Homo sapiens: one gene and its partner. The protein of the gene in region 2 binds, or shares a complex with, the protein of the main gene of each other region. Each region holds a gene or a part of one and is shown on either strand. Other genes may lie near its edges. The genes, in order: SHC1 and GRB2. A codon is read from its position in the direction of its gene.

Region 1 (6,086 bases), on a different chromosome or scaffold from region 2:
AGCCCAGGCCCCCGAGCTGCAGCAACCACAAAGTGCGACGACAGGGAAGCGCCGAGCCGCCGCGCAAACTGCGCGCTCTCTCCAGACTCGCCGCCCGCCAGCGGCGGCAGCAACCGGAACCGGAACTCGTCGCGGCCACCACCACTGAGCGCTGCGGGGAGGGGGAGCAAGGACCGGACGAGACGCTACGCCTGAAAACAGGCGGCGGGCGAGGGACGAGGCTTACCACGGCACCACGCGAGTGGAAAGGGTCGTCTCCGCTAGCGGCGGCCCACACCAGCTCACCGAGGGGCGGCAGCGCGCGGCCCGGCTGCCGGACCGTACCATCCCGGGCGGTGGAGCCGCCGCGGAGGGGCGCGCGCGAGCCGAAGGCGCACCCGGGAGGCCCAGGTAGCCCGGGGGCCGGTGCTGGGGCGCCGGGCAGGCCCGGCTCCCGCCTCGACCCACCCGGAGCCAGCCCCCTCTGCGGACACGACATCCCCATGGGGACGGTGGCGCGAAACGCCCCACTCTGCCGCACCCAAACTCTGCAGACCCCCAGCTTCCCTGGGCGGCCGCGACCTCCCGCCTCCCCGTCTGCCGCTGAGGGCCCGCGGCGTACACAATAGGCTTCCCAGAAGGGTTAAGAGGCAGAGGTAGAAGAAATACGGACTTTAATGAAGAGTTTTCCCTTTGGTATAAGTGAGACCCGTGGAAACATCCAAACAGCAAAAGGAGGCCAGGATGAAAACGGTCAACTCTCCCTTATCCACAAGGCCAAAAGAGGGGGGGCCGGCTTGCTGTGGTGTGGCCACCCCGGGCCTAGGCTGGGCCGGGCCTGTAGAAGGTACTCAGGAACTGCAGGTTTTGCGTTTCCCCTCCATGAAACTGACAGGCATTCGGGCTGACTTCTGCCTCTCAGTCTCGCGGTAAGAGACCCAAGTTTTTCTAGTCCTAGATGGAAATAAATTTCATCTGCCTCAGGTCTCTGGTATAAAAGGTGCGATCCCAGTTACCTCACAGGCCTAGGCGAGGAAAATGCCAAGAGCTGTAAAAGGGCTTGGAAAAGTCAAAAAGGTGATGTATAAATGTAATAATTGATTATCATTTTGTGCTCAAGAATAAGCAATGGAAAAGAAAATAGGAAAGTAAGTCTACAGCCCTAAAATATATGCATATAAAACTTTAAAAGAATGCAGTTCCAACTCTACAGATGGTATGTGGGGATTGTCTACTGCTTTATAGTCTCAATGCCCCTTTTCTCACCTCCACAAAATCCACCTGGGAGAGTTAACTGTACAAGAGGCCCAAATTCAGTCACCCCCACCCCGCCCTCCCAGAAAGGGAGGCAGGGCAGAGGCTTCAGGAGGAAGGGCTGCACTTTGGCGTAGAGTACATAGGCATGCAACATGGGAGGGCAGGCCTTATGAAATGTATATACAGACCCCTTGGGGTGAGGGGCCCCGGCCAGGAGGCACTGAGCAAGGGAGGGGTCCATCTCCCGCCTGGCCGGGAGTGGGGCTCTGGGGCAATCTCTAAGGGTTGCATATCCCCAGGGAGAGGGGACAGCTGCCACTCCTGCCTCTGTTATCCCAACCCAAACCGGAGAGGGTGCTCAGCAAGAACACAGGTCCCAGAAGCCAAGAAGGTGTTGGCATCCCTGTCATTGAATTCAGGGGTCCAAGAACTGTTTGCATAAAATATCATTAGACCTAAGAGATGGTCAAAGGCACAAAGTTTAAACATGGGGGGGGCGGGTGTTGAGAGGGGTCTGGGATACCCTGAAGCCCAGAGGTGTGATTTGTTCCCCCTTGCCCAGAAGGGTGACTGTTCCACTGGGCCTGTCACCACAGGACATTTTCCATGACAAGCACTCACCTTCTTGGGGAAGGGGCATCAGGTTGGCACAGGAAAGGCCCAGGTGAGGGGCCACTCTGTACATTAATACTTTGGTGATTAATGTTTGGGGAGAGGCAGGATTCTCACCCAGGCTTTTGACTCAAACCCTCTCACTCAGCTGGATATGAAACCCAGAGTCCATGCTACTCCCAGCTCTGACACAAGGCCAAGCCCACAGAACACTCCCAAACGAGGTCCCGAGAGTTAGGGAATAGGGTGGAAAGGATTGGAGGGCATCTTCTGGAAGAGAGCGCTAGGGCAGATCACAGTTTCCGCTCCACAGGTTGCTGTAGACACAGTTCGCTGCCCGCAGAGATGATGGGCAAGTGATTGTCCATGTGGTAGCTGATAAGGTGACTGACACTTTCAAAGCGGTGATCCTTAGTCCGAACCTGGGAGGGTGGGAAGGAAGAAGGTCAATTCAGGTGAAGAGTCAAATAAGACCTCAGCCTCCAAGGTGGAAGAGGGTGAAACAGACAAGAGGCTTGAAGGAGGAGAAAAAAATGGTGGGGGAGAGTGTGGCCTGTCAATCCTGATCATTGAGGCTTCTCTAGAAAGAGACAGTTGTAGGAATAGACAGGTCAGTGAAGTGAGAAAAGGCAAAGGCGACATCAGCCCTGAAAGAGTGAAGCTGAGAGCTATATACCCCTTTCTTGACCTGGAGGAAGTTGGCATGTCTCAGAAGAGTATACACAGTGCAAAAAAAGATGTGGAGGCTGGGCATGGTGGTCCGTGCCTGTAATCCCAGCACTCTGGGAGGCCGAGGGAGGCGGATCACTTGAGCCCGGGAGTTCAAGAACAGCTTGGGCAACATGGCGAAACCCCATCTCTACCAAAAAAAAAATACAAAAATTAGCCAGGTGTGCCACCACACCGCAGCCTGAGTGACAAAGCAAAACCCTATCTCAAAAAAAAAGAAAGGAAGCTGAGATTACTGTAGAAAACAAACAAAAGTTTTTTTGTTTCCAGACAGGGTCTCTGTCACCCAGGCTAGAGTACAGTGGCGCAATCATGGCTCACTGTAACCTCGAACTCCTGGGCTCAAGCGATCCTCAGGCCTCAGCCTCCTGGGTAGGTAGGACTACAGGCATGTGTCACCATTCCTGACTAGAGACAAGGTCTCGCTATGTTGCCCAGGCTGGTCTTGAACTCCTGGCCTCAAGCAATCCTCCCACCTCAGCTTCGCAAAATGTTGGGATTACAGGCATGAACCACCACACCTGGCTAAACAAGGAAAGTTTTGAAGAACAGTGAGGCAGTGCAGATAAGAGAAAGCACAGTGGTCTGAGTCCTGAGTCTGGGGAGCTGGAGAAGCCCTTGGATCTTCTTACAAAAGGAAACTTGCAGTGTCTAGCCTCTAACCATCTGACATTGGGCATCACAACCTCTTCAGGGTGGTTTCCTTATTTGTCAAAAGAGGGGCACAGATGAGATGACTGCCTTCTAGCTCTGATAAGCTTAAGGCTTGGGGATTTGAGGACGGGCCAGGACTGTATTTGTTTTGTTTTGTTTTTTCAGACAGAGTCTCACTCTGTCACCCAGGCTGGAGTGCAGTGGTGTGATCTCAGCTCATTGCAACCTCTGCATCCCAGATTCAAGCAATTCTCCTGCCTCAGCCTCCTGAGTAGCTGGGACTACAGGTGCCTGCCACCACACCCGGCTAATTTTTGTATTTTTAGTAGAGACAGGGTTTCACCATATTGGTCAGGCTGGTCTCGAACTCCTGACCTCAGGTGATTCACCTGCCTCAGCCTCCCAAAGCGCTGGGATTACAGGTGTGAGCCACCACGCCTGGCCCTGTGCCAGGACTATAAAGAACATAGTTCAGGCTAAGGGATGAGCCTCTGGAGGAAGATGCCAGACACTTTAAAGAGCAAGAGAGGCCCATAGACAGCTGCCCAGCGGGAATGTCTACAAAGCAATGAGGGAAGGAAGAGGGATACACTGTAGGGTACTGTACCTTCCTTTTTGCCACCCCTCACCCACACCTCTGCCACACTCACCACACCCTCAGGGTCCACCAGTAGCAAATGCTTAGGCTGCCCACTCTGCAAGCCAGTGAGCACATACTGGCCAGGTGTGGTCGTGCTCTCCCGTACCAGGAAGTCCCCATTGAGCTGCAGCAGTGCCTCAGCCTCCCGCCGGCTCAGCTTCCCATGGAACCAGGGCTCCCCTCGGAGCTGCTCAGCCATGGACACCGACTGGGGAGGTGGAGGCACGCGAAGAGCATCTTCGAAGGGCTCTGGAAGTATAGAGGGAGGGTGAGGGGAAGTAGCAGGCACAACACACACCCAAGACCCAGACTTCAGGGAAGGGAAGTCAGGAAGGAAAGAGCAGATAGGCAGGAGAAGGGCCAGAACCAAGTAGAAAGGTGGGGATGCAGAGAGGAGAGAGACGAGCACTCACTCATGTCAAACAGGTCCCGGGGTGCACTGCCATTGATAGCAGGATTGGGGGGCCCAGCACCACCCACTGCTTGCCGGGCCTTGTCTAGGTTCTGGACGTTGACATAGGAGGGATCATCAAAAAGCTCTCTGCCTGCTGAGGAAAGGGAGGCTCTACAGTGATCCCAGCCCTGCCTCCAACACTCCCCAGCTCTGCCTATCTCGGCTCCCTTCATACCTGGACAGGGTGGTGGAGGTGGCATCTGTTTGCGGACTTCTGGATCTCCCCCAACAGGCTGTCCTACAGGCTGCAGGGATAAAAATAAGGTGAGACCAGAAGCCCTAACCAACCACTCCCACCCTAGCCCCAGCCCGCCTCCATCCAAGCAACTTACCAATGTAGCTCCCAAGTGGCTGGGGGTCTGGGCATTGGGTGCAGTGGGTCGAGCAGCCCCTGGAGCGGCTCCTTCCCGAAGCCTCATGTCTACCACCCCCCCCAAGGGGGGTTCCTTCCCCGGGAAGTCATTATAGTACTGATGGTCAGGTGGCTCTTCCTCCTCCTCATCCCATGCTGAGCCATCAAAGCCAGCCATCCTGAGGGACAGGACAGTGAAGCTGTGGCTGTAAATGTGTGGTGGGCAGGAGGAGGGAAGGACAGAATAGAACAGCAGCCATCTATTGGGTATTTACTATGGATTAAGCCTGAGGCTGAGTGTTTTATATACATAATCATTTCATTCTCCTGGCAACCCCGTAAGGTAGGTATTGTTTCCTTCCCCACTTTTACAGATGAGGAAAATGAGGGTCAGAGGTGAAAAGATCTGCCCAAGGTCTCACAACTAAAAGGCGGCCGAGCTCAGATTTAAATTCAGGTTTGACTTTAAAGCTCATCCCCTTGGCCAGGTGCAATGGCTCACGCCTATAATCCCAACACTTTCAGAGGCCAAGGAGGGAGGGTTGTTTGAGCCTAGGAGTTCAAGACCAGCCAGGACAACATAGCGAGACCTTATCTCTACCAGAATAAAAATACTACTACTCAGCCAGGTGTGGTGGCATGCACCTGTAGCCCCAGCTACTCAGGAGGCTAAGGTGGGAGGATCACTCAAGCCCAGGATATGGAGGCTACAGTGAGCTGTGATTGTACCACTGAACTCCAGCCTGGGCTACAGAGCAAGACTGTCTCAAATAAGTAATGCTCTTGCTCTTGATCTCTGTGCTATCTCCCAACAAGGAAGGGAAGCACCATGTAGGGGGGTGGGGGGCCGGGGGAGGCACTCCAGCTCCAGAATATTTTAACCTCTCCTAAATATTCAATCCCTACTGGCTCCACTGCTTATCCCTCAAGGCCTGAGGTGGGAAAGGTTGTAATCTCAGGGAAAAGAGATATCCTCCCAAACCCAAATTCTTGATGGCTTCTAGAGGCAGGAAAACACATAATGCCAAGCAGAGAAATGAGCAAGAAAGAGGGATGGGAGTAGAAAATCCCACCTAGCCAGAGAGAGATGTAACTTGGAGGCCCCGGACTACAACTCCACCATGAGCAAACAAGAAAAGCTGGTCCTGCGGCAAGCAGGGCCTCAAAAGTCTTTCCTCCTGGGCCACAGGAAACAGAAGAATAGCAGGAAGTGGGAAGCAGAGGCACACAGGTTATTCCCTCCCTGAACCTCTCAACTCAAGTGTAGGAAGAGCAGCCCTCCTTTCCTAATCCTAATCCAAGAGCTGCTCCACACTCTCCCCACCTGCTCACCTGTCATGAGGGGTGACCAGTTTGGGTGGGTTCCTGAGGTATTGTTTGAAGCGCAACTCGAAGGCCTGGCCAATGGT
Region 2 (16,431 bases):
TAGCTGGGACTACAGGAGCACACCACTGAGTCTGTCTAATTTTTTGTAGAGACAGGGTCTCACTATATTGCCAGACTGTTCTCAATCTCTTGGGCTAAAGTGATCCTCCCAAAGTGCTGGGATTACAGGCATGAGCCACTGTGCCCCGCCCCAGACATGTTCCAAATCTAGCAGGTGCTCTGGGTCTTCTGCTGGCTCTCCTGCATCCACCCACAGGCAAGAGAAGCAACAAAGTGGGGAGGCCACAAGGCCCCAAACACACCACACACGTCAGGACTGGAGCACATGGCTGCTTGGAACTGCAGGGAGGTTGGGCACATGGTCCAGACAACTGGTCGGGAGAGAGCCAGGTGAGCACTGCGCACACTCTGCTGCAGAGCCTGACTTCACTCAGCTAACACGACCCTAGCCTCTTCCAGGCTATCCGGATTCTGGTCTCCGCACCACTGCAAGTCAGATGTTCCTAAAACTTATCTTTCATCGTACCGCTGATCTATAAGAGCTACAGAAGCAGCCAGGCATGGTGGCTCACACCTGTAATCCCAGCACTTTGGGAGGCTGGGGCGGGTGGATCACCTGAGGTCGGGAGTTTGAGATCAGCCTGGCCAACATGGCAAAACCCCATCTCTACTAAAAATACAAAAATTAGCTGGGCATGGTGGTGCACACCTGTAATCCCAGCTACTGGAGAGGCTGAGGAAGGAGAATTGCTTGAGCCCAAGAGGCAGAGGTTGCAGTGAGCTGAGATCGTGCCACGGCACTCCAGCCTGGGTGAGTGAGACTCTGTTTAAAAAAAAAAAAAAAAAAAAAAGCTACAGAAGCCTCCTGTGTCAACAGGCAGAATGGGCATCGCTCAGCCTGCATTCGAGTCCCCCACAAACCCCACCTGGGCTCTTTCTTCCTCGTTGCAGGAGGCTACTCAGGCTCCCTCAAGCCATGTCCAGGCAGGTGCTCGCTAACACCGCCACGCCTCTACTAGACCACCTGCTCTGGGTGTCTACTGTCCTATTAGTAACTGTCCAAACTCATTTCACCCAATCCCCAGGGCAAGTCCCATCTGCCTCCAAGCCTCCCTTTGAGCCTGTGCTGTCTACATTTCCTCTTTGAGTCTCTCTCATGCAAGGGCTTGCATAATACAAGGATCAGGACTGAAGAGTGCGTCTGTGTCAAGGACAGAAGGCTCCAGTGGGGCAGTTTCCAGTTTCAGGGTGACTCAGGGCAGCAATGCCACCGTGCAGGAATGGAAAGCGGTGGTTGATGGTGTGAGAAGACACGGGGGCCCTCCTCAGCCTCCAGTTAGAGGGGAGATAATTGCCTCCAATTCCACACGCCCCAGGAATGACGTTCACCATCAATCCCTACAGGTGTGGGCAACACATGTGTAACAGAGTAAATGAAAAAGGGTACACCCTCGCCCCTTGCTTCCCTAGCACAGCGCAGGATGAGGGGTGGGGTTACAGCAGGAGGCAAACATCCACCCTTTCACCCCAGGCTCGGGCCCTTGCACAGGCCTGCAGCACGAGGCGAGCCCTCAGGACCTGGCAGCTGCTATTTTGGAGGCCAACACTGCTGACGCCACGACTCACACTCAGAGAATGGCTGCAATAGCTGTGCTTTCTCAACCCGAATCCAGGAATGTTAAAAAAAAAAAAGGCTGGGGCAGGGCCTGGTGGCTCACGCCTGTAATCCCAGCACTTTAGAGGCCAAGGTGGGCAGATCACGAGGTCAGGAGATCAAGACCATCGTGGCCAACATGGTGAAACCCCATCTCTACTAAAAATACAAAAATTAGCTGGGTGTGGTGGCGGGCGCCTGTAGTCCGAGCTATTCGGGAAGCTGAGGCAGCAGAATCGCTTGCACCCAGGAAGCGGAGGTTGCAATGAGCTGAGATGGCGCCACTGTACTCCAGCAACAGAGCCAGACTCCAACTGAAAAAAAAAAAAGAAAAAAGAAAAAAAGAAGGCTGTCCTTGGAGACCTAAGACCAGTGTTGCTCTTGGGTGGGCCAGAGTTGAGACTTAAAATACGTCTTAGTGATTTCTTTTTTGGACGGGGTATAGTATGGCTTTTAGTGTTAGTTTTAAAAGTAGTGTTTGGAATGCACTAAGCAGTAAGTGGCTTAATCAATATCACTAACATGTAATATTGATCTATCAGTGCTGTTGGCACACAGAATTGTACTCTTTTTTTTTTGAGACGGAGTCTCACTCTGTCGCCCAGGCTGGAGTGTGATGGCGCGATCTCGGCTCACTGCAACCTCTGCCTCCCGGGTTCAAGCGATTCTCCTGACTCAGCCTGCCGAGTAGCTGTGATTACAGGTGCCCGCCACCACGCCCACCTAATTTTTGTATTTTTAGTAGAGACAGGGTTTCACCACGTTGGCCAGGCTGGTCTTGAACTCCTGACCCCAGGTACAAAAATTAGCTGGGCGTGGTGGCAGGAGCTGGTTATCCCAGCTACTTAGGAGGGTGAGGCAGGAGAATCACTTGAACCCGGGAGGTGGAGGTTGCAGTGAGCCAAGATCGTGCCACTGCATTCCAGCCTAGGGGACAGACGGAGACTCTGTCTCAAAAAAAAAAAAAAGAAAAAAAAAGTATTTCCAAGACGCATAAAACAGGTCCACTGTCATTTTTTCCAGTTATCCAGGAACTTCCATAAAGCGAACGTTTTGGGCTGAAGGTCACCCACCCCATGAACAGTCAGGTGGAACTAGTGCCCAGGGAAGGCAGGCAGCCTGCGCCATCATGGCCTTTGGCTCAGAGGCCACCTAAGCAGCCCCGCGCTGTGGGTCACCATCTCCTCCACACTCAAGTCTGAAGGTGAGCCTGTCAGGGGCTCCCAGCTCACTGGGTGGAGGGAAGCGTGTCAGGGAGGGGTGGGGGGGGCGTGCCCTGAAGAGCGAGGCCATGCGCCTACCTCCAGCTTTTCCCCTGACACACTGAGCGACTCCCGGCTGCACGCCGGCCACAGGGCTCCTGTAAGATGCTGGGAGGCTTCCCAAGGCACCCCGCCCAGATGTCTTCCCAGGAATCCCGGATCCCTGAGGAGGGAGATACCATCACTAAGAAATCTGTGACCAAACTGCTGATCACAGAAAAGGAGTGATTTTCCCATTAATTCTGAAACAGTCAGTCAAACGCGAGGGAGGGGACAAATTGAGCAAAAAGCCTCAAATGAGGCTAAATGAGTCACCACGCCCGGCCTTTTCAATTACATAGCTCCATTTTGTAAACTTCTGCTCAGCTTCAAGGAGGCCAGCCCAAGTGGACCACAGGACTAGCAGTCTTGACTCTTGCTGGGTCAAGATCCTTCCCACACATGACTGCTGCAGGGGAAGGTCAAAAACGTCCCAGGCCAGGCACAGCTCACGCCTGGATTTCCAGCACTTTGAAAGGCCAAGGGTGGGGGGATCTCTTGAGCCCAGGAGTCTGAGACCAGCCTGGGAAACACAGACCCCACTGTACAAAAAAAAATGAAATTAGCCAGGTGCAGTAGCGTATGCCTGTAGTCCCAGCTACTTGGGTGCAGTAGCGTATGCCTGTAGTCCCAGCTACTTGGGTGCAGTAGTGTATGCCTACAGTCCCAGCTACTTGGGAGGCTGAGGTGATCACTTGAGCCCAGGGGATTGAGTCTGCAGTGAGCTATGATTGCACCGTAGCACTCCAGCCTGGGTGGCAGATAAAGACCCTGTCACAAAACAAAACAACCCACAAGCCTCCCCTGCTCAGTGTGGCTACACCAAGAAGAATTCAAGTCGAGATTTCTTGGGTATTTTTTTTTTTTTTTTGAGAGAGGTCTGTCTCTCAGGCTGGAGTATAGTGGCATGACAGCTCACTGCAACCTCCACTTCAGCCTCCTGAGTAGCTGGGACCACAGGTGTGCATCACCACACTCAGCTAATTTTTGGTAGAGATGGGTTTCACTATGTTGCCCAGGCTGGTGTGGCATTCTTGAGCTCAAGCAATCCACCCGCCTCAGCCTCTCAAAGTGTTAGGATTACAGGCGTAAGCCACTGAGCCTGGCCCTTATTACCTTTATTTTTTATTTTATTTTATTTTTTTGAGAGGGAACCTAGCTCTGTCACCCAGGCTGGAGTGCAGTGGTGCAATCTCGGCTCACTGTAACCTCCACCTCCCGGGTTCAAGCGATTCTCCTGCCTCAGCCTCCCGAGTAGCTGGGACTACAGACACCTGCCACCACAGCTGGCTAATTTTTGTATTTTTAGTAGAGATGGGGTTTCACCATGTTGGCCAGGCTGGTCTTGAACTCCTGACCTTGTGATTCACCCGCTTCAGTCTCCCAAAGTGCTGGGATTACAGGTGTGAGCCACCCTGCCTGTCCCCTTTTTATTACTTTTTCGAGACAAGGTCTCACCCTGTTGCCCAGGCTGGAGTGCAGTGGTGCAACCACAGCTCACTGTAGTCTTGACCTCCTGGGCTCAAGTGATCCACCTCAGCCTCCCAAGTAATCCTCACTACAGGCGTGCGCCACTGCATCTGGCTAATTTGCTTTTTGTAGAGAGGCAGGGAGTCTCCCTATGCTGCCCAGACTGGCCTCAAAACTCCTGGGCTCAAGTGATCCCCCACCTTGGCCTCTCAAAGTGCTGGGATTACAGGCATGAGCTACCATGGCCAGACCTCATTTCTTTTTTGTTCAGTCTTCTTTGCCTCTGTAGCCAACGTGTGTGTAAATATGCCTAGTCTCACCCTAAAAGCAGCCTATTGAGCAAACAAGTATATTTCAGTTACTCAGCATATTAAAACCGTTTCTTCACAGGTGTTTCTGTCCTTCTTCTTGTTTAACACAGAAAACAGGAGAACCAAATAAGCCAAGCTCTTTATCTTCCCAAAGCCCTTGGTCTAGACCAGAGTTCCCAAAGCGTGGTCAGTGGTTTCTCTACATCAGAAACAGCGGGCGTGTCTGTGTCCTCAAAGGCAATGTCCGAGGATGTGGGGCGGGGTTTGCGATTCTGTATTGTTAACAGGCTCCCCAGGAGTTCCTGACAGCCAACTGCAGGCATCGCTCCCAGGAAGGCCTGTGAGCCCCACATGCTCCCCTAGGGGGATGTAAGCTGGGTGATCACGTCTGAAATAAGGACCCAAGATTCCTGACTCCCCGATGCGGTTTTTAAATTTTTAAGGCAGGCAAGGGGAAAAAAAGATACCAAGTGAAGAATTCATTGTGTATTTATTATTCACAGTTAATCACTACCTACCAAATGCTATCCGCAGAGTTAAAGGATTAAGTACATAGGTCTTTATTTAAACACTGATTTTTTTTTTAAATATATACACACAAAACTTAGTTCAGCAAGGCTTCATGATATACACCAATTCCAAAATAAAACAATCAAATGGTCCAGGTGTAGAATGCCAGATTCCTTTTATCATCTGCGAGGAAAAGAGAAGCAGGATGAGGAAGAGTGAGGGAAGGCGGGGACAGGCTCTGCCCAGAAGAGCTGCCGCCTCCTGGCACAGCAAACGCTCCAGGCCTGGGCCCTGTTCATATCTGGAGTCGGAGGGAGACTCCCATCGGCCGCTTTGGGACTGAAAGGCCCAAGGCTGTCACCAGCTCCCGGAAGAGAGGGAGGCAGTCTTGTTTTTGTCGTGGGAAGGGGTTTGGGTGGAGAAAAAGATTACAGGCACATCACCACAGGGGACCAGAAGTGGAGAGAAGACAGAGAGTTCTGCCGAGGCCTTGGTCTTCCTGTCTTTCCAATCTTGCCTTCCCCAACTCTCCCTGCTTCCTGGGACCATCGGTAGGGGTGGGGAGCAGCAGTCAACACAGCCCACTGGGAAGGGAGGCACAAGCAGCACTCCAGCTTCCCAGTGCTGCCCTCACACTCACCTGGACAGGTCAGGGGACACAGGATGAAAGCCATGGCCCAATCTAAGAGCAAGACAAGTGAAAAGTGAGTACTCTCACTGTGTACCCCAGCATAGGAATAGTGAAACCTGCTACAACTGGAGGCTGCGTTCCCATGACTTCCTCCTCCGCTCTCCTTGTCTGGGACTTGCTGGTTCCAGGGGTGCATATAGGGAGGGGGCGGGGGCCACAACCCCCGAGACGGTGAGGACAGGCTTCCGACCCCCCTGTAAGCCAGATCCAGTGGGATGTGGGAGAGCTGGGCGGTCACCTTCCCTCTTGCCCCGGTGGCCCATCACACTCACACTGCACCCTGGGCAAGCAGTTCCCTGAACCCCCAAGGGGCTCACAACCCTTAAAGCTGGAGCTTAAAGCCTCCTGGCTTAGTACAAGCAGGAGAACGCCTCACCTTCCACTCCTGCTTTGTCTCCTTTGCTCTACCCTGGCTCCCCTGCCCGGAGGGAAAAATATTTACACAGAGTAGGAGACAAATTGGCTGAAAAGCTCTGGACTGCCTTTAACTTATTTTAAAACAAAACAAATTAAAAAAAAAAAAAAAACACCACTCAGAAGCAACCCTTGAAATAAGGAAAAAGGCACTATGAAAAAACAACATGCTCGATAATCCCACTGGAAGGGCCAACAAAGTGGAAAGAGACAGGCTTTCAGGTGGGCTTTTTTTTTTTTTTTTTGAGACGGAATCTCGCTCTGTCACCCAGGCTGGAGTACAATGGCACGGTCCCGGCTCACTCAACCTCCACTTCCCAGGTTCAAGCGATTCTCCTGCCTCAGGCTCCCAAGTAGCTGGGACTACAGGTGCGTGCCACACCCGGCTAATTTCTTATTTTTAGTAGAGACGGGGTTTCACCATGTTGGCTAGGTTGGTCTCGAACTCCTGACCTTGTGATCCGCCCACCTTGGCCTCCCAAAGTGCTGGGATTACAGGCGTGAGCCACCGCGCCCAGCCCAGGTGGGCTTTCTCAGGAAGCCATGGAAGCAGAGACATGCTTTCCTTCTACCCTACTCTACTGTGAACTTGGACAAAATACACTGGGGGTCTGGGCTGGAAGGCAGATTCCTACAAGTCCCCTCCTCTGGAGGAAGCTAAACAGCAAAGGCATCGAGCGGCCCTGCCCGCTCCTTTTTGTGTGTATATACGAAGAACACAGGAACAGCTGTTCTTCTTTCAGTCATTCCAACTAAAACAGACATTTTGCATAGAGAGAATACCAGCCCACTTGGTTTCTTGTTTTTTATTATTGGCGTCAGCTAGGACTATACGTGGCCTTAAACGTCATGCACTGATGGACAGAAGAGAAAAAAGGATGAAAAAAAAGACAAAGGAGGGGAAAGAGGAGCAGCAGTGAAAATTTGTAATAAAAACTCTTCTTAATTTATAGGTAAGTTTTGGCATTTTTAAATCCAACGCCCCCTCCCACCCCCTAAAGTTCCAACCAAAGTGAGAGGGTCACAGGGTGACCCGGCCAGGTGTTCTGCACTCCCTCACAGGCTGCTGTCAGAGGCAGCTTGTGGGTTTAATTCTTTTGTATGTGTTTTACATTTTTCACTTTCTTTAAATAATTGCTTCTTGACTCTTAGACGTTCCGGTTCACGGGGGTGACATAATTGCGGGGAAACATGCCGGTCTGCCCGTGGCAAGCTCCTTTCCACCAGTTGGGGTCTGAGTTATCCATGACATGGATAAAATCTCCCCGGCGGAAGCCCAGCTCTCCATCCTCCTGGGGATCAAAGTCAAAGAGGGCCTGGACGTATGTCGGCTGCTGCAAAACAGGAGCAGGAAAAACCCACATTGCATTCCTGGTCTGTGACTGGCCACCTCCGAGGCCAGATGGGTTCCAGGGGGAAACGAATGCGTGCCAAATTCTCCATGTTTCTTAAACTCACCTCCCATCTCCCAACCCCCCGTTTATTCTTACCTATTCTAAGTTTACAGGCCAAGCGGGTTTAGTGTGATATTTCCCAGTGCTCAGAAAATATTAGAGTATGTCTCCCAGAGGAGGGTGGCCAACTGTGCCGTATTATCAAGTAGAGGGCAGGCAGTGCTTGGAGGAGAAAGTTCTTCAGAAACAGCCATCTGTGTTTAGGCCGTGGGCCCAGAATCGCAAATCCCTTCTACGACACCCTTAAGGTATTAAAGCCTAAAGTTCTGGAGCTCGAATAACATAAGGGGCTCTAACCGTAACTTACGACCAGGGCTCGAGGGACAGGAACGGGTGCCGACCCCATTCCCTCACAAGCATAGTTTTCCTCATAATTTGCTTCCAGGGACAGGATCTTTGGGTGGGTGTGTTAAAGACCATCTCCCTAGAGAGGCTGGCAAGCTGGCTACACACTGCCTCTGGAAAAGCAAAAACCTTGTATTTGAAACAACAAATCTTTTTTTTTTTTTTTTTTTTTTTTTGAAATGAAGTCTCCCTCTGTCGCCCAGGTTGGAGTGCAGTGGTGCAATCTCAGCTCACTACAATCTCCACCTCCTGGGTTCAAGCAATTTTTCCATCTCAGCTTCCCGAGTAGCTGGGACTGCAGGTGTGCGCCACCACATCCAGCTAATTTTTGTATTTTTAGTAGCGACAGGGTTTCACCATGTTGGCCAGGCTAGTCTCAAACACCTGACCTCAAGAGATCTGCCTGCCTCGGCCTCCCAAAGTGCTGGGATTATAGGTGTGAGCTACTATGCTGGGCCAGAAAAAAGAACTCTTTAGTGTGAATGGAGGGTAACATTTTCAGTAAGGAGCACAGAAGCCCCAGCGGCAATCCCTGAAGGGCGCCCGCATGTTGAGGGGCGCCTCCCCTTTCCTACAGGAATGCACACTGAGGAGCTATTCTTAACTAAAAATGATCCCATCTCACCCTGATGAGGCTTACCTGTGGCACCTGTTCTATGTCCCGCAGGAATATCTGCTGGTTTCTGGAGACAGATGTAGATCTGTGATAATCCACCAGCTCATTCAAAGAATTGAACTTCACCACCCAGAGGAAGTACTTCCCGGCTCCATCTCGGAGCACCTTGAAGTGCTGCACATCGTTTCCAAACCTGGGAGGGACAGAAAGCACATGTGACCGGCTAAAGGCTCTAACTTGGCAAATCGAGGGTATTTCCATATAGGAGCTATCTCGAGAGAACCACTGTCCCAGCAGCACTCCTCAGGGACTGCAGAGCAACAAGTTTCCTCACTGGGTGTCCCTGGGACGGACCTCTCCCTATGAATGATGGGCACCAGGACAACATCCAGAAACCAGAGAGGGACAGGCCATCAGTCATTCTCATTCTGAAGATGTTTGTAAGATAAAGAGTCCAGGCCGGGTGCGGTGGCTCACACCTGTAATCCCAACACTTTGGAGGCCGTGGTGGGCAGATCACCTGAGGTCGGGAGTTCGAGACCAGCCTGGCCAACATGGAGAAATCCCATCTCTACTAAAAATACAAAAGTAGCTGGGCATGATGGTGCATGCCTGTAATCCCAGCTACTCGGGAGGCTGAGGCAGGAGAATCACTTGAACCTGGGAGGCCGAGGTTGTGGTGAGCTGAGATCGCGCCATTGCACTCCAACCTGGGTAACAAGAGTGAAACTCTGTCTCAAAAAAAAAAAAAAAAAGAGTCCATGTGCCCTGAACCCTACCAAATAAAAACAGCCGTACTTAAGACAAAGGAGTGTGACTTAACATCCTTTGAATAAAAAAATAATTAAAATCTTATATGCAGGAAGAAGGTGAGGAGGGCTGGAAATACTTTCAACAATTCTCTCGTAACTGGGAATAGTTCAAAGTAATGTTTTCCATTCAGGAATTTTAGCTCCACTCATGGGGAAAAGGTCTCTGAACAAAAGGACGTACTGGGACAATAAAAGAGGCCCAGACTTCAAAACCCAAAAGCTTCTCCATCACTAGATCACACCCTTTTATACTGGCAAGCAAAACCGGCAACAGCGTGGCTGGCTGGTACTAGCTCACAGGGTCTGTCACAGGATATTTGGCTAAAACACCAGCCTAGCGAGGGCGCTTCTGCCTGTCCTGTTCACCTGGCCGGGCACTCTCGGCATTCTCGGCCGGATGCGGTGGCTCATGCCTGTAATCCCAGCACTTTGGGAGGCCGAGGTGGGCGGATCATAAGGTCAGGATATCGAGACCACCATGGCTAACACAGTGAAACCCCGTCTCTACTAAAAATACAAAAAATTAGCCAGGTGTGGTGGCAGATGCCTGTAGTCACAGCTACTCGGGAGGCTGAGGCAGGAGAATGGTGTGAACCCGGGAGGAGGAGCTTGCAGTGAGCCGAGATTGGGCCACTGTACTCCAGCCTGTGCGACAGAGTGACACTCCATCTCATTAAAAAAAAAAAAAAAAAAAAAGGCATTCTCTGAGAGTGCTTGTTCAATGAATGAATGAGTCCCTCCTCTCCTTCAGTCTTTCAGCTGATGGAAACCAAAGGCTTCAGAAAATCAATCCGGCAGGTGGCAGCACTGAGCCTCAAGGAAGCCACTCAGCACAAGATGCCTCGCATTTGGAAAAAATACTGCTTTACATGTTAAGACAAAATGTGGAAGGTGAGAAAGCTTCATTAGCAAGGGTATATTCCACGGCACTTCTGGCCCCACAGAGGCCCACTTCCACCCATGCAATGCAGGTGGTTTCTAAGAGCCCAGGGCCCCAATAATGAGCAGTGTTTCAAATCACAGGCTCAAAACATCCTAAAACTAAGAAACATCTGACAACTGTTGATTCTTGAACCTTTTTTGCAGAGGTGTGTGTGTTGTTAAAGAGAGTCATGACACCTGCTTTGCTTCTAAAACAATAAATGCATTAAATCCTTAAAAGATTCTACTTGAGAAAATGGAAGTTTGAGAGTTTCTGCTGAGCAAACAGGCAGCGTCCAGCCGAGCACGTGGCTGCCCCCGTGGTTTTGGCCACCACCCAGTGATTTACTGCTTGTTCCCCTCATCTTATAAGGTTTCAGTTACACTTGGGTCAGTATAAAACTAAAGAAAGACAGGTGTCACACATGTTTTTCTTTTCTTTTTTTTTTTTTTTTAAAGATGGATGGAGTCTTGCTCTTTCACCCAGGCTGGAATGCAATGGCTCAGTCTCGGCTCACTGCAACCTCTGCCTCCTAGGTTCAAGTGATTCTCCTGCTTCAGCCTCCGGAGTAGCTGGGAATACAGGCATGTGCCACCACGCCTGGCTAATTTTTGTATTTTTTTAGTAGGGACAGTGTTTCACCATATTGGTCAGGCTGGTCTCAAACTCCTGACCTCATGATCGGCCCGCCTCAGCCTCCTAAAGGGCTGGGATTACAGGCATGAGCCACCATGCCGGGCCACAACTATAAATTTAAAATCTACGTTTCAAAAAAAAAATCTACATTTTAATCACACATTAAGTGGTTCTAAAACCAAATAAGATATTCAGTTTGTTTGTTTGTTTTGGGAGACACAGTCTTACTCTGTCACTCAGGCTGGAGTGTAGTGGCACGATCTTGGCTCATCTGCCTCTCGGGTTCAAGTGATTCTTCTCTCTCAGCCTCCTGAGTAGCTGGGATTACAGGCACACGCCACCACGCCGAGGCCATTTTTGTATTTTTTTTTTTTTTTTTTTTTTTAGTAGAGACAGGGTTTTACCATGTTCGCCAGGCTGGTCTCGAACTTCTGACCTCAGGTGATCTGCCTGCCTCGGCCTCCCAAAGTGCTGGGATTACAGGTGTGAGCCACCGCACCCAGTTTTTTTTTTTTTTTTTTTTTTTTTTTTGGAGACAGAGTTTTGCTCTTCGCCCAGGCTAAAGTGCAATGGCGCCATCTCGCCTCACTACAACCTCCGCCTCCTGGATTCAAATGATTCTCTGGCCTCAGCCTCCCAAGTAGCTGGGACTACAGGTGTGTGCCACTATGCCTGGGTTATTTTCTATTTTTAGCAGAAACAGGGTTTCACCATGTTGGCCAGGCTGGTCAGTTCATTTTTGAAATGGAAAAGTCTCACGCTTTACATCAGTTATAAATGGGAAATGGTGGCTGGAAGCAGTGGCTCCAGCCTGTAATCCCAGCACTTTGGGAGGTCGAGGTGGGTGGATCACCTGAGGTCAGGAGTTCAAGACCAGCCTGGCCAATATGGCAAAACCCCATCTCTACTAAAAATACAAAAATAAGCCGGGCGTGGTGTCAGGCACCTGTAATCCCAGGTACTCGGAGGGTGGGGCAGGGAGAACTGCTTGAACCTGGGAGGTGGAGGTTGCAGTGAGCTGAGGCATGCCATTGGACTCCAGCCTGGGGGACAGAGCGAGACTCTGTCTCAAAAATAAGTAAATAAAATAAAAGGAAAATGGTTTTCTATCCCCCATTCAAAAACAAAACAATCTTAATGTAATCTAAACTAAGTAGTGATCTGAGTGTTGAATCTAATTACTTCTTTATATATAACTGATGAAGTGATCTGCCGGACTCCTGGGGAGGGTCCTATGATAATACATTAACTAGAAAATAACTGAAAGTAAAAAACATGGAAATAACAATTTAATTCAAAATCCCGACTTCACAGCTGAGGTGTGAATTGTTTAGAATCTTCAAGTGCTGGTTTCTATTCTCCACACTCTCCATGGCGGCAGAACTTCCTGTCTTCTCCATTCCCTGCTTACCCGCTCCCTTTCACACCTGAACTTTCCACCGGGGAAATGCAAGCCCCACATCCCCTGCAGCAGCCTTCTTAAGTGACTGTGAGGGCCTAGGATGGGGCTGGTTGATTTAAGTCAGTGGACCTGAGCAAGGCAAGCCAAGGCAGCCGACAGGCGCTCCACTATCCCATTAGAGAGAGCTGCGGGAATCCCTTGGAGGGCAGAAGCTCAGGAGTGCTGGGCACTAGGGAAAACTGGCAGGCTCCAGCTGGCTGCAGGGAGCTGCTGCTCACCTCCTGAAGGCTGTGTCCACATGGGAATCTACATCCAGTGCTTCTAGAACTCATTTTGAGAGGAGCCAGAAATTAGGATTTTAATGTGAAATGAAGAAACTGTTTAGGCTAAGCCTCCACCATTTTGTGTGTAGCCAGGCACCTGACCAACGGCTTCACAATTTGGATCAGTCAGAGACAGGATTCCAGGCAACTGCAGCAGGAAATACTTACTTGACAGAGAGGGAGAAGTCCCCAGGAGCGCTCTCACTCTCTCGGATAAGAAAGGCCCCATCGTGCCGCTGTTTGCTAAGCATTTCTTCTGCCTTGGCTCTGGGGATTTTGCCAAAAAACCACCTAAGGAAGGAAGGCAAGCTGGTCAACATCTGCTTCCCCACAAAGAAACGGGATATCCAGCCTTCAAAATGTGAGTAACACAACACTCCTTGCCAGAGGAAGGGGCCTCCCTCCTCATCCTCCAGCCTCACAGTGCCCAAGATCGACACTGGGTTGGGTCCCCAGAGATGGACCTTCAAAGGTCTTTAGCCTACTCCATTTCCCAGAAAGCGACTCACCAAGGCACTAACCGTGGGTCACTCTTTCTATAGAGGGAGACATTTGAAAATGGGCCCCCCAGGCCAAAGCCCACTGGACTCCCTACTGACTCATGACAAAGGCGCCTGGGGAAAAGCTCAGGCCTTTGGGCTTGGTGTACGGGATGAACTGCCAAGGAGAGACTGGCCCCTTCCTGCAGCCATGTGATAAGATCACAGCTTCACCACAGTGGGACTAAGGGAAAGTGGGGAGGAAACCTGGACGGCCAGGAGCTGGAGGCAGGGTTACTTTTGCTAACAGCCCAAAGGCAAAAGGTTCAGATAGTATGAGGGTGCCTCTACCAGTAACTAAGGTCAGCATTCCTCTCAAGGCCTGCCTCTGGGGCCACTGCTCAGAGTTCAGCTTTCAGAAGCCACCAGGAATATTGTAATTTACCATATGCTCAGCAGCTAGCTGCAAAATTCAGATTTTTGAGGCAAGTTGCAGACTCTTCTGCTCCCAATTGCTGATTCACCTTGGCCAGAAGAAAAAGTGGCTAAATTCATGAAAAACTGTGAAGCAACTGGCTGTGGCTTATCAAGAGGAAGAGGAGAGGAACACTTCTACAAGAGCTTCAAGTCAAGCTGCCTCACTATTTCAAATGAAAACTATAATTAGGAAGAAGAAACTGTGAAAACCATGTTCTCTTCTCAAAATTGTCTTTAGTTATCATTTTTAAAAGCAAAAGTTATAGCAAATAAAGACCTATAAACATGGAAACTGGCATTCATTTAATATGCTAATTATAATATCAAAAGTCCTTTTAATGGACCAAATAGTCCATTAAAGTTGTAAATCTAACTTACATATCTTTTCTTTTTTTTTTTTTTTGAGGAGTCTAGCTCTGTCACCCAGGCTGGAGTGCAGTGGCACGATCTCGCTCACTGCAAGCTCTGCCTCCCGGGTTCACGCCATTCTCCTGCCTCAGCCTCCCAAGTAGCTGAGCAGCTGGGACTATACATAGGCGCCCGCCACCATGCCCGGCTAATATTTTGTATTTTTAGTAAAGATGGGGTTTCACCGTGTTAGCCAGGATGGTCTCGATCTCCTGACCTTGTTGATCCGCCTGCCTTGGCCTCCCAAAGTGCTGGGATTACAGGCATGAGCCACTACGCCCGGCCCTTTTTTTTTTAGATAGAGTCTCACTCTGTCATCAAGGCTGGAGTGCAGTGGCACGATCTCGGCTCACTGCAACCTTCGCCTCCTGGGTTCAAGCAATTCTCCTGCCTCAGCTTCCCTAGTAGCTGGGATTACAGGCGGCCACCACCACGCCCAGCTAATTTTTGTATTTTTAATAGAGACGGGGTTTCACCATATTGGCCAGGCTGGTCTTGAACTCCCGACCTCGAGATCTGCCCGCCTCAGCCTCCCAAAGTGCTGGGATTAAAGTCGCGAGCCACCACGCCCGGCTAATTTACATATCTTACTTATAAGCAACCATATTGGAAGATGTACCTAAAATAATATACTATACTCAAATTCAAACAGAAAGATGTGATCTGCTAGGAAGGATACACTTAGAAGCTGCCCTTAGTAACTTTGTCCTTGTGTGTGTGTGTCAGCCTCTAGGGACTCTTAGTAACTCTGAATAGTCTGACATCTACCTGCTTGGAGTCTTTCTCATTTTGCATACTCTACTGCCAGGATGCTGAGGAGCTGGGACAATAGATCCTCCTGCTTCTACAAATAACTCAAGGCTAGGGCCTGCAGTGCCTGGAAATCAGGCCACACAAGAGAAATCACATATCACTAGAATAGAATGCTCTCTAAATATAAAAGGACAGGCTGGGCCCGGTACCTCATGCCTGTAATTGCAGCACTTTGGGAGGCTGAGGTGGGGTGAATCACTTGAGGTCAGGAGTTTGAGACCAGCCTGGCCAACGTGGTGAAACCCACTCTCTACCAAAAATACAAAAATTAGATGGGCACAGTGGTGGGCACCTGTAATCCCAGCTACTCGGGAGGCTGAGGCAGGAGAATCACTTGAACCTGGGAGGCAGAGGTTGTAGTGAGCCGAGACTGTGCCACCGCACTCCAGCCTGGGCGAAAGAGTGAGACTCTGTCTCAAAAAAATATATAAATAAATAAAATAAAAAAGGAGGCTGGGTGCGGTGGCTCAATGCCTGTAATCGCAGCACTTTGGGAGGCCGAGGTGGGCGGATCATCTGAGGTCAGGAGTTCGAGACCAGCCTGGCCAACATGGAGAAACTCCATCTCTACTAAAAATACAAAATTAGCAAGGCGCGGTGGCGCATGCCTGTAATCCCAGCTACTCGGGAGGCTGAGGCAGGAGAATCGCTTGAATCTCCGGGAGGCAGAGGTTGCGGTGAGCCGAGATCGTGCCATTGCACTCCAGCCTGGGCAACAAGAGTGAAACTCCATCTCAAAAAAATTAAATAGGCCGGGTGTGGTGGCTCACGCCTGTAATCCCAGCACTTTGGGAGGCCGAGGCGGGCGGGTCACAAAGTCAGGAGATCGAGACCAACCTGGCTAACACGGTGAAACCCTGTCTTTACTAAAAATACAAAAAATTAGCCAGGCGTGGTGGCAGGTGCCTGTAGTCCCAGTTACTCAGGAGGCTGAGGCAGGAGAATGGAGTGAACCTGGGAGGCGGAGCTTGCAGTGAGCCGAGATCGCGCCACTGCACTCTAGCCTGGGCGACAAAGCGAGACTCGCTTTCAAAAAATAAATAAATAAATAAATAAATAAATAAATAAGGACACTTAACGGTATTGAGACCTTCTCAATCGGGGGGCCCCAATCAACGGTATTTAAACCTTCTCATATCGGGGGGCCCTGGGTTTCTAATATAAGTGTATGCAGCATGCATCTGACTGGGTACAGCAGTGAAAATCCACACATGGCCTCGGCTGGCTCTCCCCACACTGCCCCACACTCCCCACCACTGCCACTTCCAATAGCAATGGTGAGGGTGAAGATTCTCAATCAGCAAGGCTCTCTTTCCTCCTAGGCCCCCAAGATCTCTCCACTAGGGAGGTTTTTTCCCATTTGTAGGTATAAAATAATGAATATAAACTGAAATAGCCTAGATGTACATGAAGCAAACATAAAAAGTAAGATG

What was found.
Region 1: the proteins of GRB2 (region 2) and SHC1 are in contact, whole or in part, in an NMR structure (PDB 1QG1), measured with the Homo sapiens proteins. Residues at the interface, in NP_002077.1 of Homo sapiens: Arg67, Glu71, Arg86, Ser88, Ser90, Asp94, Ser96, Gln106 (codon at 8,903), His107 (codon at 8,900), Phe108 (codon at 8,897), Lys109 (codon at 8,894), Leu120 (codon at 8,861), Trp121 (codon at 8,858); in NP_892113.4 of Homo sapiens: Asp423, Asp424, Pro425, Ser426, Tyr427, Val428, Asn429, Val430.

What each region holds. Positions count from the first base shown.
Region 1 is NC_000001.11:154,961,662-154,967,747, forward strand, and holds the end of SHC1 (SHC-transforming protein 1), read right to left. Parts: coding exon 6,010-6,086; intron 4,884-6,009; coding exon of another isoform or gene 4,857-4,883; coding exon 4,658-4,856; intron 4,571-4,657; coding exon 4,501-4,570; intron 4,420-4,500; coding exon 4,285-4,419; intron 4,121-4,284; coding exon 3,882-4,120; coding exon of another isoform or gene 3,708-3,881; exon of another isoform or gene 3,625-3,707; intron 2,271-3,624; coding exon 2,142-2,270; 3' UTR 637-2,141; downstream 1-636. UniProt on the Homo sapiens protein: Signaling adapter that couples activated growth factor receptors to signaling pathways. Participates in a signaling cascade initiated by activated KIT and KITLG/SCF.
Region 2 is NC_000017.11:75,312,909-75,329,339, forward strand, and holds the end of GRB2 (growth factor receptor-bound protein 2), read right to left. Parts: intron 13,113-16,431; coding exon 12,990-13,112; intron 8,920-12,989; coding exon 8,751-8,919; intron 7,646-8,750; coding exon 7,460-7,645; 3' UTR 5,168-7,459; downstream 1-5,167. UniProt on the Homo sapiens protein: Non-enzymatic adapter protein that plays a pivotal role in precisely regulated signaling cascades from cell surface receptors to cellular responses, including signaling transduction and gene expression.